Linked DNA regions of Homo sapiens: region 2 is linked to region 1. Evidence: fine-mapped expression QTL. A gene starts in region 1. The other region holds a variant in brackets. All regions are shown on one strand. Distances are between the middles of the regions. Region 1 holds the start of TECR (trans-2,3-enoyl-CoA reductase). Region 2 overlaps TECR (trans-2,3-enoyl-CoA reductase).

Region 1 (9,475 bases):
AGCTCAGGAATTCCAAGCTGCAGTGAGCTATGAGTGTGCCACTGCACACTAGCCTGAGAGACAGTGAGACCCTGTCTCAAAAATAAATAAAAATCCAAATAAATTTGGAAAAGATCTTCAAGGCTGGGTGCGGTGGCTCATGCCTGTAATCTCAGCACTTTGGGAGGCTGAGGCAGGTGGATCCCTTGAAGTCAGGAGTTCGAGACCAGCCTGGCCAACATGGTGAAACCCCATCTCTATTAAAAATGCAAAAATTAGTCAGGCATGGTGGCGTGCACCTGTAATCCCAGCTATTTGGGAGGCTGAGGCAGGAGAATCACTTGAACCTAGGAGGTGGAGGTTGCAATGAGCCGAGATGGTGCCACTGCACTCCAGCCTGGACAACAGAGCGAGACTCGTTCTCAAAAAAAAAAGACCTTCAAAAAGCGCTATAGCCATATGAGCCAACAATCCCACTCCCAGTGGGATACCCATGTGAAATGAAAACCTTTGTTCATATATAAAAATTCATGGCTGGGTGCGGTGGCTCATGCCTGTAATCCCAGCACTTTGGGAGGCCGAGGCGGGAGGATCACAAGGTCAAGAGATGGAGACCATCCTGACCAACATGGTGAAATTCCGTCTGTACTAAAAACACAAAAATTAGCTGGGCATGGTGGTGCACACCTGTAACCCAGCTATTCGGGAGGCTGATGCAGGAGAATCGCTTGAACCCAGAAGGTGGAGGTTGCAGTGAGCCGAGATTGCGCCACTGCACTCCAGCCTGGGTGACAGAGCGAGACTCCATCTCAAAAATAAAAATAAAAAAGATACTATTATAATGTTCATTTCCTGGCTCCTCTCAATTTCATCAACATAGCAACACCAGCAGGGTAAAATCTACTTTTTTTGTTTTTTTTTTTGAGATGGAGTCTCATGAGCGAATGTTTGCTGAGGCTTTATTAGTTATTACCAACAGCAGTTAAACCCTAACTGTCCTTCAATGGATGAATGGATAAACAAATGGGATCCATCCACACAATGGAATACTATTCAGCTATAAAAAGGAATGAGCTACGGATACAAAAAAACAACATTACAGATGAACCTCATATGCATTATGTGGGTGAAAGAAGCCAGGCTCAAAAGGCTGCATGATTCCATTTCACTCAACCTTCTGGAAAAGGCAAAAGTATCAGGACAGAAAGCAGATGAATGCTTGCCAGGGGCTGGGACCTGCAACAAATGGAGTAGTTTGGAGAATTTTTTGGGTTGGTGTAAATGCTCTGTATCTTGATTGTAGTGGTGGTTGCATGACCGTATGTGTTCAGAGCTGTACACTAAAATGGGTGAATTTTACTACATGTCAATTACACTTCAATGAAAAAAAAAAAAAGAAGGAGAAAAACCAAACAACCCAGGCAAGACAGGATAGGGCTTGGGAAACCTCTCTCTGGGATTCCTGACACAGCAGAAACTTGCTAACGAGCCCTGGCTTGTCTAGTCCCAGCTTCACCTCCCCTCACACACCCAGCGAGCCAGCTCATTCATACACAACCCAAACCAGCCAAGCCAGGTTCTGGAAAAAGTCAAGATCCGACCTGATCTGCCCATGGGAAATACAAAAGGAGCTTGTGAGACACGACATTACCAAACACATCACATCTCTGGCATTCAAATGGTCTCGGGTTCCCCCCAAACCTGAGGTCCAGAAAAGCTCATCCTTGGAAGCTGCCGCAGCTTAGGCCGTCTCTTGCAGTTTCTCCCTTGGAAATTACTTTAATAAAGGAGCTAGTTACCATCAGCTCAACAACGACCCAACAGATCTACCAGTCACCATTGTGAATCAGCCACTGCTGGGACTGTGAAGGGACCAGCAGGATCTAGCTGTCCCTACAGACAGGCACTGTCAGGGGGCCACAGTACAGTGTCCTCAGTGGCTTGAACAAAGTGGCCAGTCTTCATTCCAAGGGTGGGTTTCATTTCTGCTGACAGCCTGGTTACCGGAAGCCAGATGGGCAAACAAGGGGTTCCTCAAGCCTGCAACACCCCTCAAAAACAAAGAGGAATTCTACTTTGGAGGCTGGATCTTGCCTTTCTGCCAGCTTCTTATGGGTGAGGAGGGGGTGGAAATTATTTGTATGTTCCGGTTGACACGCAGCATAGTAGGTGCATGAGGATGATTTGGTGCCTGTTGAGTAAGTGTGGGGCTCAGAAAAGCAGTCTCAAAAGGGAATTTCCAAAACGTTCTGAGTTTATGGGAATATGTATGGAATCTCTTCAAAATGACACCTACTTGTACACCATCATGCCCTATCTAACTGCAACCCAGAGATGGAAGACTCACCTCTTCAGATCACATTAAATAAGTTGAAAATTTGCATAACTGGTGAAGGAGCAACACATGGATGGGTCTTAGGGTTTCAACCCTATCCCCATGGCCCCTCACAATCAAGTACCTCAGGTAACTCAATCTGATAGGATTTTAACTGTGGTCTCAGGCCGAGTGGGATGGCTCATGCCTGTAATCCCAGCGCTTTGGGAGGCCGAGGAGGGAGGATCACTTGAGGCCAGGAGTTCCAGAGCAGCCTGGGCAACATAATGAGATCCCATCTCTACTAAAAAATTAACTTGTGGCCTGGAAGCAAATACTCTCCCCCAGCACCCAAGAAGGGCAGGGAGTGAGGCCTGTCATGACACAGAAGGCCTCAAAACTCAAACTGCCACCAGAAAAATATCTCTGCTTTTTTTTTTTTTTTTTTTTTTTTTTTTTTTTTGAGACGGAGTTTCATTCTTGTCACCCAGGCTGGAGTGCAGTGGTGTGATCTCTGCTCACTGCAACCTCTGCCTCCTGGGTTCAACTGATTCTTCTGCCTCAGCTACTTGAGTAGCTGTGATTACAGGTGCCCACCACCACACCCAGATAATTTTTGTACTTTTAGTAGAGATGGTTTCGCCATGTTGGCCAAGCTGGTCTCAAACTCCTGACCTCAGGTGATCCTCCTGCCTCGGCCTCCCAAAGTGCTGGGATTACAGGCCTGAGCCACTGCGTCCGGCCAGATCCTTGCTTTTGAAAGCACACATACAGAACACCTTCAGGTTTTCATCTGTTTTTCCCAGATAGCACCAGTGAAAAAGATAATGAGTTTCCAGAAGACCACATAGCGTTGGCTTCCTGTACTCGCAGTCAGGGATCCCCAAAGGCTACAGCTTCAGAAGTTTCCAGAGCCAAATCTGGATGACTGAGTTCCAAGCACTGACTCACCCTTGCCTCCGCCTGCTCCCCTGTGAATCAGTGATCTACCTTTAAGGACTTCTCATCGTGTCTCTCATGACAGGCCTGTGAATTCCAGATGGTTCAACAGCTCATGAAAGCTCAGGGGCAGGATCTGGAAACAAGAGTAAGGAGAGGAGGTGAAGAAGTGTGCCAGGTACTGCCTGTTCCTTTGTCTGTCAAAAGTCTTTTCTTTTTTTTTCTTTTTTTTTTGAGACAGAATCTCACTCTGTCGCCCAGGCTGGAGTGCAGTGGTGCGATCTTGGCTCACTGCAACCTCCACCTCCCGGGTTCAAGCGATTCTCAGCCTCCCTAGTAGCTGGGATTACAGGTGCCCACCATTACACCTGGCTAATTTTTGTATTTTTAGTAGAGACAGGGTTTCACCACGTTGTCCAGGCTGGTCTTGAATTCCTGACCTCATGTGATCTGCCTGTCTTGGCCTCCCGAAGTGCTGGGATTACAGGTGTGAGCCACCGTGCCTGGCCAGAAATTTATGTGTTTTTCATTTACAGCACATCTCAATTTGGACCAGTCCCATTTCTTTTTCTTTTTTCTTTTTTTTTTTTTGAGACGGTCTGTTGCTCAGGCTGGAGTGTAGTGGCGAGATCTTGGCTCACTGCAACCTCCGCCTCCCGGGTTCAAGCAATTCTTCTGCCTCAGCCTCCTGATTAGCTGGGACTACAGGTGTGTACCACCACGCCCGGCTAATTTTTGTATTTTTAGTAGCGATGAGGTTTCACCATATCTGCCAGGCTGGTCTCGAACTCCTCACCTCGTGATCTGCCCCCCTCGGCCTCCCAAGGTGCTAGGATTACAGGTGTGAGCCATCGTTCCCGGCCTGGACCAGCCCCATTTCAAGGGCTCAGTGGCCCCATTGGAGCCACTAGACACGATTCTGGACGTCAGGCAGAGACCAATGTAGTTCCCCTGTCCATAGGGCGGAGCAAAGTGTGGAGGGGGGCCGGGCGGGGTGGCTCAGGCCTGTAATCCTAGCACTTTGGGAGGCTGAGGCGGGAGGATCACCTGAGGTCAGGAGTTCAAGACCAGCCTGGCCAACCATGGGGAAACCCCGTCTCTACTAAAAAAAATACAAAAATTAGTCGGGCGTGGTGGCGGGTGCCTGTAATCTCATCTACTTGGGAGGCTGAGGCATGAGAATCGCTTGAACCCGGGAGGCGGAGGTTGCGTGAGCCGTCATTGCGCCACTGCACTCCAGCTGGGGGACAGAACGAGATTGTTTCAAAAACAAAACAAAACAGAAAAACAAAGTGGGGCGGGGCTTTCATTAAAAACGGCAGTGAAGCCACCCCAGAATGGGGCTGGGGCTCAAGGTTCTTGCAGGTTGGGGGTTCCCAAATGGGGAGCTTTTCGCGACTCCGTTTCGCCTTTCCTTCCCTCCCACTCAAGAGTCTCCTCCCATAGTGACCTCCTCGCCAACCAGACTCCGCAGCCCGCGACCCCAGCCCCTAGCCCTCTCCTGCTGTTCCCGGTGTACCCCGGGGGCCGCCCACCTCAGAATTTACCCCTTCGGCGCCGCCTGTCATGTGGATGCTGCCTTGCCTGTCACTCAACTTCTTACCCCGCCCCCGCGTCTGGCCTAACCGTCGCTTACCTTGGTTTCCACAGCGACGCCATCAGGGGGCGTGGCAAAGGGACGCGCGGGGCAGAGACCTCCTTTGGATTGGTGGATGGTCAAGCCCCTTCTCTTTAGCCCCTCCTACAGGCGTTCCGCCCCCTTCGATTGGTCTCGCAAGTTGATTGGTCAATCCCCTGGTGCTAGTCCTAGTCTTGGTTCGGACCGGCCCCAAGGAGCAGGGGCGAACGTGGGCGCCTCGTGCCCTGATTGGCCGACGGGGCGCGCGCGGCCTGGAGGGGCGGGGCGGACGCAGAGCCGCGTTTAGTCTATCGCTGCGGTTGCGAGCGCTGTAGGGAGCCTGTGCTGTGCCGCGCAGTTAGGCAGCAGCAGCCGCGGAGCAGTAGCCGCCGTGGGAGGGAGCCATGAAGCATTACGAGGTAAGAAGCGAGAAACAGGGGCCGTGTGGCCACTGCTGACCCATTCTTTTTCCTTCTTTGCGGGACCACGGGACCCCACTTTCTGGTCCTGTGCCCCGAAGGAAGAGCCAGACGGCGCAGGCGCAGTGGGCAAGCGTTGCGCCCCGGGCCACTCGTAAATTCCAATGCGCATGTGCGCAGGAAGTATTTATAAATCTGCAACCCAGGCTGTTTTGGGGGTACTTTTTCTTGGGGGTCTCTGCAGGGGCTGGGACGCTTGCAGGTTCCTTGCAGCTCCCCCAGCGGGCTGAGTTGCAGACTTTGTCATGGGAGCCACGAAGGTGCGGGACCCTTGCTCCCAATCCGAGGGAGTCTTGCACAAATCTTGCGCCACGCCGCCGTCACCAGCGTAGGAAGGGGCTTTGCTATCAGTATTCTTGTGTACGACCTTTGGACCCCTTCCCTCGCCCGGGACGTTCCCGGGAGACTTAGGCGGTGAGGGAGGTGCAGCTCCACGGCTGGCTTTCGCAGAGCAGCGAAGCTGATCTTGCTTTCTGGTTATCAAAGAGGTCATCTACGTCAACCCTTGGGTGTCACCAAGGAGAAATCTTATACCCACCCACAGCCACTCTTGAAGCCCAAGTCTTCTGACTCCTAACTTGGGTCTCTTTTTCCCTTAAAACGAAGTCTTCTGATGTGCTTATCGCCCTAGGTGATAATATAATATTAATAATTCAACCAATTATCCCTGAATTATTGCTGACTTTTAAGTAACTATCATCAAATAATAAAATTTGTTATTAAAATTCAAAATAACAATTTAGCAAGTGCTTACTCTTGTGCTGGTGAGATTCTGTTACCTTGTATAAGAACTATTATTATTCCTGTTTGTAAGGATGAATAAAGTCTCAGAGATATAAAGTGACTTGTTCAAAGGCCCCTAGTTAGTAAATGCAAAACAGATAGGGGAACTCAGGACGCCAAGGTCTTAGTTCCTAGCCACTATGCCATGCTGGTCCTCAAATGAAAAATAGCAGGTCGAGCGATTTCTTGTTTCTCACTTCCCCTCCAATTTAAAAAATTCTGGCAAAATACACATAAAATTTACCATCTTGACTATTTTTAAGTGTGCAGTTCAGTGGCATTAAGAACATTCACATTGTTGTGCAACCATCACCACCACCCATCTCCAGAACTCTTTGCATCTTGGAAAACAGAAGCTGTAGACGTTAAATACTAACTCCCCATTCCTCTCCACCTCCACCTCTGGCAGCCACCATTCTACTCAGCCACCATTCCGTCTTAATGAATTGACTACTCTAGGTACCTTGGATACGTAGAAGGATTTTTTTTTTCTTTTGGAGACAGAGTTTCGGTCTTATTGCCCGGGCTGGAGTGCAATGGCGCGATCTCGGCCTACTGCAAACTCCGCCTCCTGGGTTTAAGCGATTCTCCTGCCTCAGCCTCCTGAATAGCTGGGATTACAGGTGACCGCCACCATGCCCGGCTAATTTTTTGTATTTTTAGTAGAGATGGGGGTTTCACCATGTTGACCAGGCTGGCCTCAAACTCTTGACCTCAAGTGATTTGCCCTCCTCGGCCTCCCAAAGTACTGGGATTACAGGTGTGAGCTAGTGCGCCCGGCTGTTTGTTTTTATTGACAAGTTGAATATTACTACCTCTGCCTCCTGCCCCCTTTATTGCTACTATTTTTGGAAATTTACCCACAATCCTTTGAAGCCTTTTTTTGAGACGGAGTTTCGCTCTTGTTGAGTACGCTGGAGTGCAATGGCGTGATCTTGGCTCACCGCAACCTCCACCTCCCGGGTTCAAGTGATTCTCCTGCCCCAGCCTCCTGAGTAGCCGGAATTACAGTCATGAGCCACCATGCCCGGCTAATTTTGTATTTTTAGTAGAGACAGGGTTTCTCCATGTTGGTCAGGCTGGTCTCGAACTCCCGACCTCAGGTGATCCACCCACCTTGGCCTCCCAGAGTGCTGGGATTACAGGCATGAGCCACGGTGCCTAGCCCCTTAGAAGCCTTTAACCCACAAATCCTGTAATTTTTGACATGGTATCAAGAATGAGGAGGTTTGTATTCAATAATCTCTGTCATTTAAGTTTTCATTCTAGAATGAAGTTCTGATGTGGATTCCCCTCTCAAACTCTATATCTAAACCTGTAGTCCCACTACTGTAGTCTCAGCTACTCGGGAGGCTGAAGCAGGAGGATGGCTTGAGCCCAGGAGGTTGAGGCTGCAGTGAGCCCAAAAATCAGGCCACTGCACTCCAGCCTGGGCAACAGAGACCCTGTTTGAAGAAAAAAAAAAAAAAAAAAAAAAGCTACCATGTCCAGCTTGAAACATGCAGTTTGGAACATCCATATGGCATTTTGCAAATGTAGTTGGTTTAGTTTTGCTAGTTAACAGTCAGATAAAGTAGGCCTCTGAGCACCCTGGGGGTGCGTGCTTTTGTTCCAGGAAGCTGGGCACAGCCTGAGGCCCAAGACTTGGACTGGAGAATATGCTCCACCGTACTTAATCCTTTTCTCTCCCAGAAAGAAGGGGGAGCTTTGGCCAGGCATGGTGGCTCACGCCTGTAATCCCAGCACTTTGGTAGGCTGAGGTGGCCGGATCGCTTGAGGTGAGGAGTTCAAGACCAGCCTGGCTAACATGGAGAAACCTTGTCTCTACTAAAAATACAAAAGTGAGCCGAGTGTTGTGGCACACGCCTGTAATCTCAGCTACTTGGAGGCAGAGGTTGCAGTGAGCTGAGATCATGCCACTGTACTCCAGCCTGGATGACAGAGCGAGAGTCTGTCTCAAAAAAAAAAAAAAAAAAAAAAAGGGAAGCTTCAAACTCACTGTTCAAAGTGACCTTGAAGGAAAAAATAAATTGTTATTTTGCTGTGTTGTTTGTTATTCTCTGCCAACCTTTGCCAAGTACCCATAGAGGCGATAGCTACAGGGCTTCTGGGTGGGAGAAGCAGTTGTTTCCCGGCCCAGCGGATTGCATAGCAAGCAGATTAGTTTAACTGCATGTGTGTATTGTAGGTCAGTAAAAATAGAAAGGATGCTTTCACTCACACTTAACAAGCAATTTGAGAAAAGGTTTGTCTACATCAAAGAATATATTTCTGGCCGGGCGAGGTGGCTCATGCCTGTAATCCCAGCACTTTGGGAGGCTGAGACGGGTGAATCACTTGAAGTCAGGAGTTCGAGACCAGCCTGGTCAACATGGTGAAACCTCGTCTCTACTAAAAACAAAAAAATTAGCTGGGTATGGTGGCACGTGCTTGTAGTCCCAGCTACTGGCTTCGAGGCTGAGGAATGAGAATCACTTGAAGCTGGGAGGCGGAGTTGCCATGAGCTGAGATCACGCCACTGTACTCCAGCCTGGGTGACAGAGCGAGACTCTGTTTTAAAAAAAATAAATAAAGGATATATTTCAGCTGGGCACAGTGGCTCATGCCTGTAATCCCAGCACTTTGGGACACCAAGGTGGGCAAATCATGTGAGGTCAGGAGTTTGAGACCAGCCTGGCCAACATGATGAAACTCCGTCTCTACAAAAAATAAAAAATTAGCTGGGTGTGGTGGCGCACGCCTGAAATCCCAGGTACTTGGGAGGCTGAGGCAGGAGAATCACTTCAACCTGGGAGGTGGAGGTTGCAGTGAGCTGAGATCGCACCACTGCACTCCAGCCTGGGTGACAAGAACGAGACTCTGTCTCAAAAAAAAAAAGAAAAAAATCTATTTCTGCTTGGGACTAAATCCATCTTCCCACCCTCAAGCAGTCTGTTGTCCACTGAAAGGTTGGCCCCTGGAGAGACCTTGGAGATTATGAAGTGCAGTTTACAACTGATAGAGGTAATGCCCAGAGGGGTGCAGGACGTGCTGACTGTCACGCAACAAATTAATGTCTGGTTGAGGACTGTTATCATGGCAGTTGGGATCCCAGCAGTAGTGGAGATCGGTGGCTGTTTCCATAGTAGCCTCATATCACTGCCAAATCTCATCTGATCTGAGAGGAAAAGTTTTCCACTCTGTGGCCTAATTGAGGTGAAGCCTCTCTCTAGAACGGGTCACCTCCAGGCCTTGGCTGAAGCCGTCTTCTTAGAATACCAGAGCAGGCCTTAGCATTGTCTTGGGGTCAGAGCTAGGTCGGTAAGCGAACTGCTTATCCTAGGATACAGTATTTTTTTAATGTATTTTTTTATTTTATTGCTG
Region 2 (9,475 bases), 33 kb after region 1:
TCTAATCTTATTTATTTATTTATTTATTTATTTATTTATTTATTTATTTTGAGACAGGGTCTTGCTGTGTCGCCCAGGCTGGAGTGCAATGGCATAAACTCAGCTCACTGCAACCTCCACCGTCCTGAGTTCAAGCAATTCTCCTGACTCAACCTCCTGAGTAGCTGGGATTACAGGCACACACCACCATGCCTGGCTAATTTTTGTATTTTTATTAGAGACGGGGTTTCACCATGTTGGGCAGGCTGGTCTCGAACTCCTGGCCTCAGGTGATCTGCCTGCTTCGGCCTCCCAAAGTGCTGGGATTACAGGTGTGAGCCATAGTGCCCCGCCTAATCATATTTATTCTTTTTTTAAATTTTGAGATGGAGTCTTGCTCTGTCTCCCAGGCTGGAGTGCAGTGGTGCGATATCAGCTCACTGCAACCTCCTCCTCCTGGGTTCAAGCAATTCTCCTGCCACAGCCTCCTGAGTAGCTGGGATTACAGGCATGCACCACCACGCCTGGCTAATTTTTGTATCTTTGGTAGAGACGGGGTTTCGCCATGTTGTCCAGGCTGGTCTTGAACTCCTGACCTCAGGTAACCCGCCCACCTTGGCCTCCCAAAGTGCTAGGATTACAGGCATGAGCCACCGTGCCCGGTCATCATATTTATTCTTTTTTTTTGAGATGGAGTCTTGCTCTGTCGCCCAGGCTGGAGTGCAGTGGCGCGATCTCGGTTCACTGCAAGCTCTGCCTCCCGGGTTCGCGCCATTCTCCTGCCTCAGCCTCCCGAGTAGCTGGGACTACAGGCACCCACCACCGCACCCGGCTAATTTTTTGTATTTTTAGTAGAGATGGGGTTTCACCGTGTTAGCCAGGATGGTCTCGATCTCCTGACCTCGTGATTCGCCCGCCTCGGCCTCCCAAAGTGCTGGCATTACAGGCGTGAGCCACCACGCCCGGCCTATATTTATCCTTAATAAGATTTATCCTAAACTGGGGATGATTACGGTAACCCTGTCAGATGGCAGCTGGGGACAGCCCACTTTGCCATGAGTAGATGGAAGTTCAGAGAGGTTGGGTAACTTGCCCAGGGCCACACAGCCAGGAAATGGGCAGGTCTGCTTCTCTGGGTTGTTCACCCACCAGGCGGGCGGGTTCCCAGGAGCTGTGACAAGTGCTTAGACAACGAGAGCCCCCCTTTTCACTCCTCCTGCCCCCATTAGTAATATCTTCATGACCACAAAGACAGTGAAGACGGGCTCTGTTGCTTGCGGCACTCCCCTCTGGGCTTGGGAGGCACAAACCTCGCCCCTGCTCCCTCTTGCAGGGTGCGCTTCACGCCGCACCGTGTGTCCTGGCTCTTGGCTCTGCCCTGACCTCGTGCTGCGACGAGTTGCTGTTGGCTGGGCCCCGGGAATCTTGGGCCTCCTGGTGAGAATTCCTCTCAGGCTAGTGGAACTGTCATCACAGAGCCACAGGCCGGCAGAGCCACCAGCCTGTGCCCCAGGCCAGAGTGCCTGCCTGTCTGCCCGTTCCTGCCCTCTCCCTGCCCGTCGTGCCTGAGGCTATGTGGTCTCACCCCTTGCCCGTGGCCAGTGCTGGGACCTCGCTGACACCAGTAGCCCCCCTCCCACAGGTATCCCTTCATCCACCCAGAGCATCTCAGCCCCTCCCAGCCCCTCCGAGTGGCTCCGTGGGCTTCCTCAGAAGGTCCTGTCTGTCCTCCCTGCCTCACCGCTTCTCCTGGAGATGGGGCCAGAGCCTGCCACCTCCCCGTCTGTGCTCAGGATCCCCTGCCTGGGGCTCTGTTCAGCAGCTGCCTGTACCCTCTGCAGCCCTGGGCTTCCCCTGGGAGCCCCTGCCCCCTGTTGGCCTCAGGCCTGGGCAGGCGTGTGTGTGTGTGGCAGGCACAGAGCAGAGATTGGGGTGGCAGTGGGGTGTGGGGCGCGGAGCCCTCGATGAGGTCTCACATTAGGCCCTCCCTCTGAGGGGTGGGGAACCTCTCCTGCTCCTCCCACCCGACTGTTTTTATTTTGATGGGTATGTGGGGCCTGTTTGTTACCCCTCACCCCTTTAAACAATAATTTATTGAGGTGAAATTCATGTAACATGAAACTAACCATTTAAAAGTGAACAGTGGCATTGAGTGCACGTGCATCATTGTGCAGCCTCCACCTCTGTCTCGTCCCAGAACATTTTCCTCACTCTGAAAGGAGACCGGGTACCCAGCAGCAGCCACTCCCCATTCCCCCCGCCCAGCCCCTGGCCCCTCCAATTTGCTTTTCTGTCTGTCTGCTCTGGGTATTTTGCATAGATATGGGACCTTTGTGTCTGGCTTGTTTCCTAGCGTAACTTATTTCTTTTACCCCACCTGGAATATCTTATTTAACTTTCTTACTTAGAAATAATTATAGGCCGGGCCAGGTGGCTCACGCCTATAATCCTAGCACTTTGGGAGGCCGAGGTGGTGGATTGCCTGAGCTCAGGAGTTCGAGACCAGCCTGGGCAACATGGTGAAACCCCATCTCTCCTAAAATACAAAAAATTAGCTGGATGTGGTGGTGTGTGCCTGTAATCCCAGCTACTCTGGAGGCTGAGGCAGGAGAATCGTTTGAACCTGGGGGGCGGAGGTTGCAGTGAGTCAAGATCGCACTGCTGCACTCCAACCTGGGCGACAGAGTGAGACTCTGTCTCAAAAAAAAAAAAAAATTATAGAGACACAGGGAATTGCAAGAATAGTATGGAGAGGTCTCCTGCTCCCCCCAGAGCCTTTCAGTCCTCTCTCTAGGAGGAGATGGCCGACGAGCTGGGGATTTGGGGCAGGAAATGGGAGACGGACGGCCGTCCCACTGAGGACTCATCCTGCCCAGGTGGCCCTAGCCTTGGGCATTTCTTGTCTGTAGGGGCCCCTAGGTGCTGCCTTGCAGCCCGGGCTTACCTCCTTGCAGGTTTGGGCGTCTCCTCTCCTTGGGCCTCAGGCTGGCCTGGGCACCACTGCTGCAGCTGTGAGCGTGGCCCCTCTCTCGCTACCCCCTCCTGCCGCAGCCCGGCGTCCTCTCCCAGCAGCTAGCCGGGACCCCGATGGCCGTACTCTCCCTCTTGGGCCCTGGTTTGGTGCCCAGGTTGGGGGGAGCAGGGTACGATTTCACCCCTCCCACTAGCAGCTGGCTGGACAGGGAGAGGGGCTGGTTGTATTTTAAGCTGTTGAGTGGTTCAGCAGGAACTCGGAGGCCTTCTCTCCCTGTGGACGCTAGGCTGCCTTCCTACAGGCCACACGGGCTTGGAAGCATGTGGGCACTGCCTGCCTGGGGCCCAGGAACTATTAATATACCTGCAGCCACAGGGCAGGCCCCGTGCCCGCCCAGGGCCCTGCTGTGCTAACCCTTTCCCGTGGATCCCGCCCCGTGTCCTCTGTCCCTATCCTACATATCCCCTTGGTGGGGCCCAACGTCCTGCGTGGTGTGACCGAGCTCTTTTTTTCTGGCCCCTCCATGTGCCAGCTCTTTGGCCTTGTTATCGCTGTGGCTTGGAGGAGTTCAGTAACCTTCCCCTAGAGGCCACAAGGCCAGGCAGTGCCTGGAGTTGACAGCAGGGACTCAGGAGGCCCCGTGGGCCAGGATTTCCTGGCTGCTGGGCCCATTCCCACCCTCCTGTCCAGGAAGTGGGGGCGAGTGTGTCATGGCTGGGGAAATAGGCCCCCATGCTGTGGTGACTGCCAGGCCAGCAGGGGAGTGGGGATCTGAACCAAACCCACGGGCAACAATGCCTCCTATCCCATGGGGTGCCTCCCATCTGTCAGGGGTCACCTAGTGTACCCCATGCATTGTCTCAGGGGACCGTCACAGTCCTGGGAGGTAGTCTGCTTCCTACCTGCCCCCTTCTGAGGCCTAGAGAGAGGTGACATGCCTGGGGTCCCCCAGGGACTACAAGGCAGGGCTGGTTACGGTTCCCGAGTGCAGGCCACCAAGCCCCCTTGTCTCCCGCTGTCGTTGGGAATGTGCAGGAGGGGTACCCAGCTTCTCTGGCTTGACCGTGGTGCCCTCATCTTCAGGATGGGCCCTAGCTGCCGTGGCCCGGTCTCCCTGGGCTCTGGGTGGGTGGGCCTGCCCTGGGATGGCCCCAGCCCAGAGGTTTGTTTCTGAGCATTGTGTCCTGCTCCTTTTCCTCAGGCAGCCTCTGGGGGCCCCCGCTGGGTTTCTGTGGGTAGGAAGGGTCCCCCAAGAATTGCTGGCTGGTGGCTGACTTGGGATCAGGCCTGCCTGCTTGCCACGACCCCTGTATAATAGGATTGCACTGACCCCTGCATAGGGTGGGTCAGATCCCCGGGGGCTGCCTCCCTCCAGCCCTGCCCCTCTGCACCCCCATCGTTCATCACTGGCCTGGGGGCTCAGGGAGGGCTGGGCCAGACTCCTACCTCAGGGGCTGGCACAGGCCTGGCTCTTGGACGCAGGAAGCGCCGGGCTTTAGTGGGGCGCAGGTCCTGGGTGAGGGTGCAGTGTTTGGGCTGACTCAGTGGAAAGCCTGCCCCACAGGTGGCTATAAGGTGAGAAGTGGGTGGGGAGGAAGGTTGGGGAGACCTCATCAGCCCAAGCTGGAGGCGGTTGCCTAAAACTTCCACACACCCCGATCCTTTCCACACTTCGAGAGAGGCTCTCTGCACCCATAACTCCAGAATCTGTCACCTCCCTGGTAACACAAATGCACAAGGAAAATAATCCAAAGTGTCTCTTACAGCTCAGAAGGGGAAATGGATGATCTGTCTCGCGGATTCTCAAAATAGCTGGGATTTCTCCAAGCCCAGTGAACTCCCTAGGCCTGAGCTGCGGGCTGGGGCCTGCACGGCC[C/T]GCTGGCCTCTCACTCTCCTCTAGCCACTGGCTCTGTGCAGGGCGGGGGCTGGGAGGTGTTGTCATGCCTGCCCCTGGGGCTTTCCCTGTGCTGGTGCCGTTGAGGGTTTTGAGGTGACCACTCAAAAGCTGCTTTCAGGGCAGCCTGGCTCCCCGGGGAGACTCCCAAGCCCCCCTCAGAGAAGGTCTGTGGCATGGCTCCTGGGGGGCGCAGTCTGGGGTGGTTTTATATTTAGCTGGGCTGTGGCTGTGGTTGCCACTCGGGTTACATCTGGCACAGAAGTCGGCAGTGCCAGGGCCGGCACGGGCTCCTTTCCAGCACCGCGGCAGAATTTGATCGCGCTTGCCCGGCCCAGGGCTGCTTCCCGTGGGGAGGTCGGTGGTGGGGGCTGACGGCCGGCAGCTGGGGCTGCTGGCCACCGTGGGCAGAGCCGAGTGGCAGGGCTGGTGGCAGGCGGCATGGACTTGAACTTGAGCTTGTTGGCCCGGGAGGCCACCCCAGGCCTCCTCCCTGGCCTCAATGGGCTCCCCAGGCCCACACCCCCAAAGGTGGCCAAGAAACCTAAAAAGGCTGTTCTCTTCTTCGAGGTGGAGATTCTGGACGCAAAGACAAGGGAGAAGCTGTGTTTCTTGGACAAGGTAGGACTGGGGCGTGGGCTGCACTGGGCCAAGGGCACTGGGCCCGGGACCCCAATCCTTATAGCCCAGGAGCTGTCCAGTGGGGCCCTTTGTGCCCCACCCCCTGCCCTATGGAGGGGTATGCCCTCACTTGGGGTAGGGTGGATAGCCATGTCCCCTGGGTGTGGCGGGGAAATGGAGGCACAGGAGTCTCAGTGGACCCTGCGGGGATTTTGGTCCTGGGAGGGCGGTGGAGGAGTGAGCCTTGCCCCTGCTGAGGCCGGGCCTGGGGGAAGGGGCTTGCGCTGTCCCTGGGGAGGACAGAGGGCCTTTGCTCCTGGGAGAGTCATGGGTGAGAAGTGGAGAGGAGGGGCAGAGAAGCAGGCTTGCCTTCCCATGCTTAATCCGCCACTAGCCGGGCTGGGGGCCTGCTGGCTGAGGGTAAAAGTGGAGCCCCAGACCCCTGCTGTCACTGCACTGGCAGGGCCCTCGGTGGTCCTTCCCTGACTGCAGGCAGAGGCCTGGACCCCAGCCCTTCCCCCTTCCCATAGCTACAGCCCAACCCCCAGCCTGCCATCCCCTTTAGTACCTCCCCATCCTGAGTCTGGGCTCCCCGCAGAGCTGACGTCCCTGCGCCTGTGCTTCCCCCAGGTGGAGCCCCACGCCACCATTGCGGAGATCAAGAACCTCTTCACTAAGACCCGTGAGTTCTAGTCCCGGCCACACTGCCCCTGCAACCCCTTTGACCAGGGACCTTAGGGTGGGAGGGATCCCATCCTGCACCCCTCTCCCAGGGGCCTGCAGAGATGCCCCAGTGTGGCCCAGGCTTCTGGGGCGTGACTGGGGCAGGCGCCTCCACGTGGCACTCCGCAGGAACGCCCTTGCTAGGCTCTGGGAAGGACAAGATCCTGCTTCTGCCCGCGCTCTTCTGGCTTGTGTCCTGAAACCGCACAAGCCTGAGGGTTTGCCCCCAGGTGGGAGGAGCTGTGGAGTCCTGGGGTCCTTGCACCCTGGGAACCCTGAGAAGCTGGCACAGTGGCTGGGCAGCGGACCGGCTGAGCCCTGCCAGGCTGTGGGCTGTAACTGCCCTGTTCTCCCCGCAGATCCGCAGTGGTACCCCGCCCGCCAGTCCCTCCGCCTGGACCCCAGTGAGTACAGCTGTCCACTCGGCCCGCCCCCTGGGCTCCTGGGTGGCAGTGGGAGAAGGCCCGGGTAGCCCCTGAGCCCTGGCCCGCCTCTCTGCAGAGGGCAAGTCCCTGAAGGATGAGGATGTTCTGCAGAAGCTGCCCGTGGGCACCACGGCCACACTGTACTTCCGGGACCTGGGGGCCCAGATCAGCTGGGTGACGGTGAGTCCTGACCCTACCCACGGCCTCTTTTCCCGTCAGCCACGTTGGGTGACTCATCTTGCCCCCCTCTACTCTCAGGTCTTCCTAACAGAGTACGCGGGGCCCCTTTTCATCTACCTGCTCTTCTACTTCCGAGTGCCCTTCATCTATGGCCACAAATATGACTTTACGTCCAGTCGGCATACAGTGGTGCAGTAAGTGGGGCAGGTGGGAGGAGGGTAGGGGAAGGCAGAAGACCTGCCGGACCAGCCCCAGCTGAGCCTGCTCCCCCCGACCAGCCTCGCCTGCATCTGTCACTCATTCCACTACATCAAGCGCCTGCTGGAGACGCTCTTCGTGCACCGCTTCTCCCATGGCACTATGCCTTTGCGCAACATCTTCAAGGTGAGAGCCCGTCCCCGCCTCACCCCTAAGCCCCGCCTTTCTGCCCCACCCCGCCCCGCCCCCACCGAGCCCCACCCCAAGGCCCTTCCTGTCTGCCACTACGCCCCAGCAGAGCCCTACCCCTAGGCCCCGCCTAACCTCCCCAGCCCCGCCCTCGCAGAGCCTCTAGACCCCGCCCGTCCTCCCCAGCCCCGCCCCCGTCGGGCCCCTAGGCCTGCCTATCCACCCTAGTCCCACCCCTAGGCACCGCCTATCCCCCCAGCCCCGCCCCTGCAGAGCCCCGCCCCAGTTTCACCCCTAGGCCCCTCCTGTCCACCACGCCCTCACAGAGCCCTGCCCTAGCCTCACCCCTTGGCCCCGCCTATCCTCCCCAGCCCCGCCCCAAGGCCCCTCCTGTCCTTTCCCACCATGCTCCCAGGCCCCTCGGGATGAGACATGGGCAGCATCTGCCTTGTCCGGTGCTGGCCCAAGTCCCATCCCTGCCCTGCTCCCTTTCAGAACTGCACCTACTACTGGGGCTTCGCCGCGTGGATGGCCTATTACATCAATCACCCTCTCTACACTCCCCCTAGTAAGTGGCCTCAGACCATCCTTCCCTCCCCCACGGTCCCCACCCAGCGGGTCCTCCCCTCATGGGCTCCCCTCCCTGCTTCCTCTTCAGCCTACGGAGCTCAGCAGGTGAAACTGGCGCTCGCCATCTTTGTGGTAAGGAGGCTGGGTGTGGGGACGGGGTCGGGGGAGTCTGGGCGGCCCTAGGCTGATCCTGCTTCTCTGACAGATCTGCCAGCTCGGCAACTTCTCCATCCACATGGCCCTGCGGGACCTGCGGCCCGCTGGTGAGTGCCTGCTGGGGGCAGGGGGACAGCTGGGCTGGGTGAGGGGGTCTGACTTTCTCCTTCTGTCCTGCCTGCCAGGGTCCAAGACGCGGAAGATCCCATACCCCACCAAGAACCCCTTCACGTGGCTCTTCCTGCTGGTGTCCTGCCCCAACTACACCTACGAGGTGAGGGGCTGCCTTACCCCTCTCTGCCCTGGGACTTGGGGTCCCATGTGGAGGGACCAGCCCCTAGGATGGGGCGCCTGGCTGGGCAGCTGCTTTTGCCGCCTGCACTGCGAGCATTGGGAGGTGGAGACCGCGGCCTCTCTGCTGTGGTGGCGGGGAGGCGTGTGCCGCTGGGCTTCCGCCGTATACAGCCCCGCCTCCGCTGGAATTGGGTTCCCATCCCTGACTCAGAAAGCAGGGGCGGCGGGAGGTGGCTGGCTGAGTCCAGGACAGCCACATACACGGGTTGCGAGGCTGCCCACGCTCACTCTCCGCCCCTGCCCACAGGTGGGGTCCTGGATCGGTTTCGCCATCATGACGCAGTGTCTCCCAGGTGAGCCTGCCGCCCTCCCTCGGCGGGGCCCTGCCCCTCCGGGCCGGCAGCCCCTCCCTGACGCCCGTTCTTTCCTGCAGTGGCCCTGTTCTCCCTGGTGGGCTTCACCCAGATGACCATCTGGGCCAAGGGCAAGCACCGCAGCTACCTGAAGGAGTTCCGGGACTACCCGCCCCTGCGCATGCCCATCATCCCCTTCCTGCTCTGAGCGCTCACCCCTGCTGAGGCTCAGCCCCTCAACCCGGTGGCATTCTGGGGGAGGAGTGGGGCCCACAGCTCTCCAGCACCCGGAATAAAGCCCGCCTGCCCCAGTCGGACTCGGGCTCTGTGTGTTTCTTTCCGGGGTTGGGGACCACCACACTGCCCTTCACTCTCTCCCCACTCTCGCGTCGGAGCAGTAAGAGGGGACTCTGGTTGAGGGGCCTGAAGGCTTTTATTTGACTGGTCCATAGGGTGGGGGGTGCACCCCCTACAGGGCCACCTTGGGGTCCACTTCCCCGGGTCCCTGGCCTTTGGCCAACTCTGCCGCCTTCTTCTCCCGCCGCTTCTTCCGCTGGAGCAGCCTCCGCTCCCGCTCAAACTCCTTCATGCGCATCACATAGCTGGGGGAAAAGCACGAGAGGGGCTGTCAGGGTCCCTGGCCAGGACACGCCCCCCAAGCCCTGGGAAGCGGAGGGGCCGTCCCAGAGCACTGTGGGGGAGGCCTCTGAAGAAGACATGTCCGAGTGCCTGTGGCTTGGGTCTGGGGTCTGCCCACGCAGGTGGCAGGGCTTCCCACTGGAACCTGGGCTTGGCCACTCCCCTAGGTGGCTTCAGCCACCTGCCCTGTCCCCATCAAACAGGCCCCTAGAGAGCCCTCTCTGGGACTAAGGTGGGGCCCGGCTAGAAACCTCAGTGGCAGTTCAGGTCCCTGGCCTCT

The links. PIP is the estimated chance that this variant, and not a neighbour inherited with it, causes the effect.
Region 2: its variant is fine-mapped to the expression of TECR in blood mononuclear cells (TOPMed, PIP above 0.99). The same link has a PIP of 0.9 or more in whole blood.

The regions. Positions count from the first base shown.
Region 1 is chr19:14,524,443-14,533,917 of GRCh38, forward strand. It overlaps TECR (trans-2,3-enoyl-CoA reductase), which reads left to right and starts at 5,152. Exons shown (of 13, transcript NM_138501.6): 1 at 5,152-5,269. The coding sequence starts at 5,255. It overlaps MIR639 (microRNA 639), which reads left to right and starts at 5,101; the gene lies at 5,101-5,198. It also overlaps a transcript of DNAJB1 not described here. RefSeq lists enhancers at 4,896-5,480, 5,844-5,903 and a silencer at 4,954-5,243.
Region 2 is chr19:14,557,108-14,566,582 of GRCh38, forward strand. TECR (trans-2,3-enoyl-CoA reductase) reads left to right here. Exons shown (of 13, transcript NM_138501.6): 2 at 5,418-5,468; 3 at 6,099-6,150; 4 at 6,551-6,595; 5 at 6,693-6,796; 6 at 6,875-6,990; 7 at 7,075-7,180; 8 at 7,679-7,751; 9 at 7,842-7,885; 10 at 7,959-8,016; 11 at 8,095-8,183; 12 at 8,511-8,556; 13 at 8,637-8,873. The coding sequence ends at 8,764. NDUFB7 (NADH:ubiquinone oxidoreductase subunit B7) reads right to left here. Exons shown (of 3, transcript NM_004146.6): 3 at 8,971-9,158. The coding sequence ends at 9,026. It also overlaps a transcript of DNAJB1 not described here. Among named protein-coding and RNA genes, the nearest start is that of NDUFB7, 10 kb to the right of the region's middle. RefSeq lists enhancers at 1-289, 5,736-6,543, 8,160-8,966 and a silencer at 7,433-7,582. The variant C/T (reference allele first, on the strand shown) is at 4,830.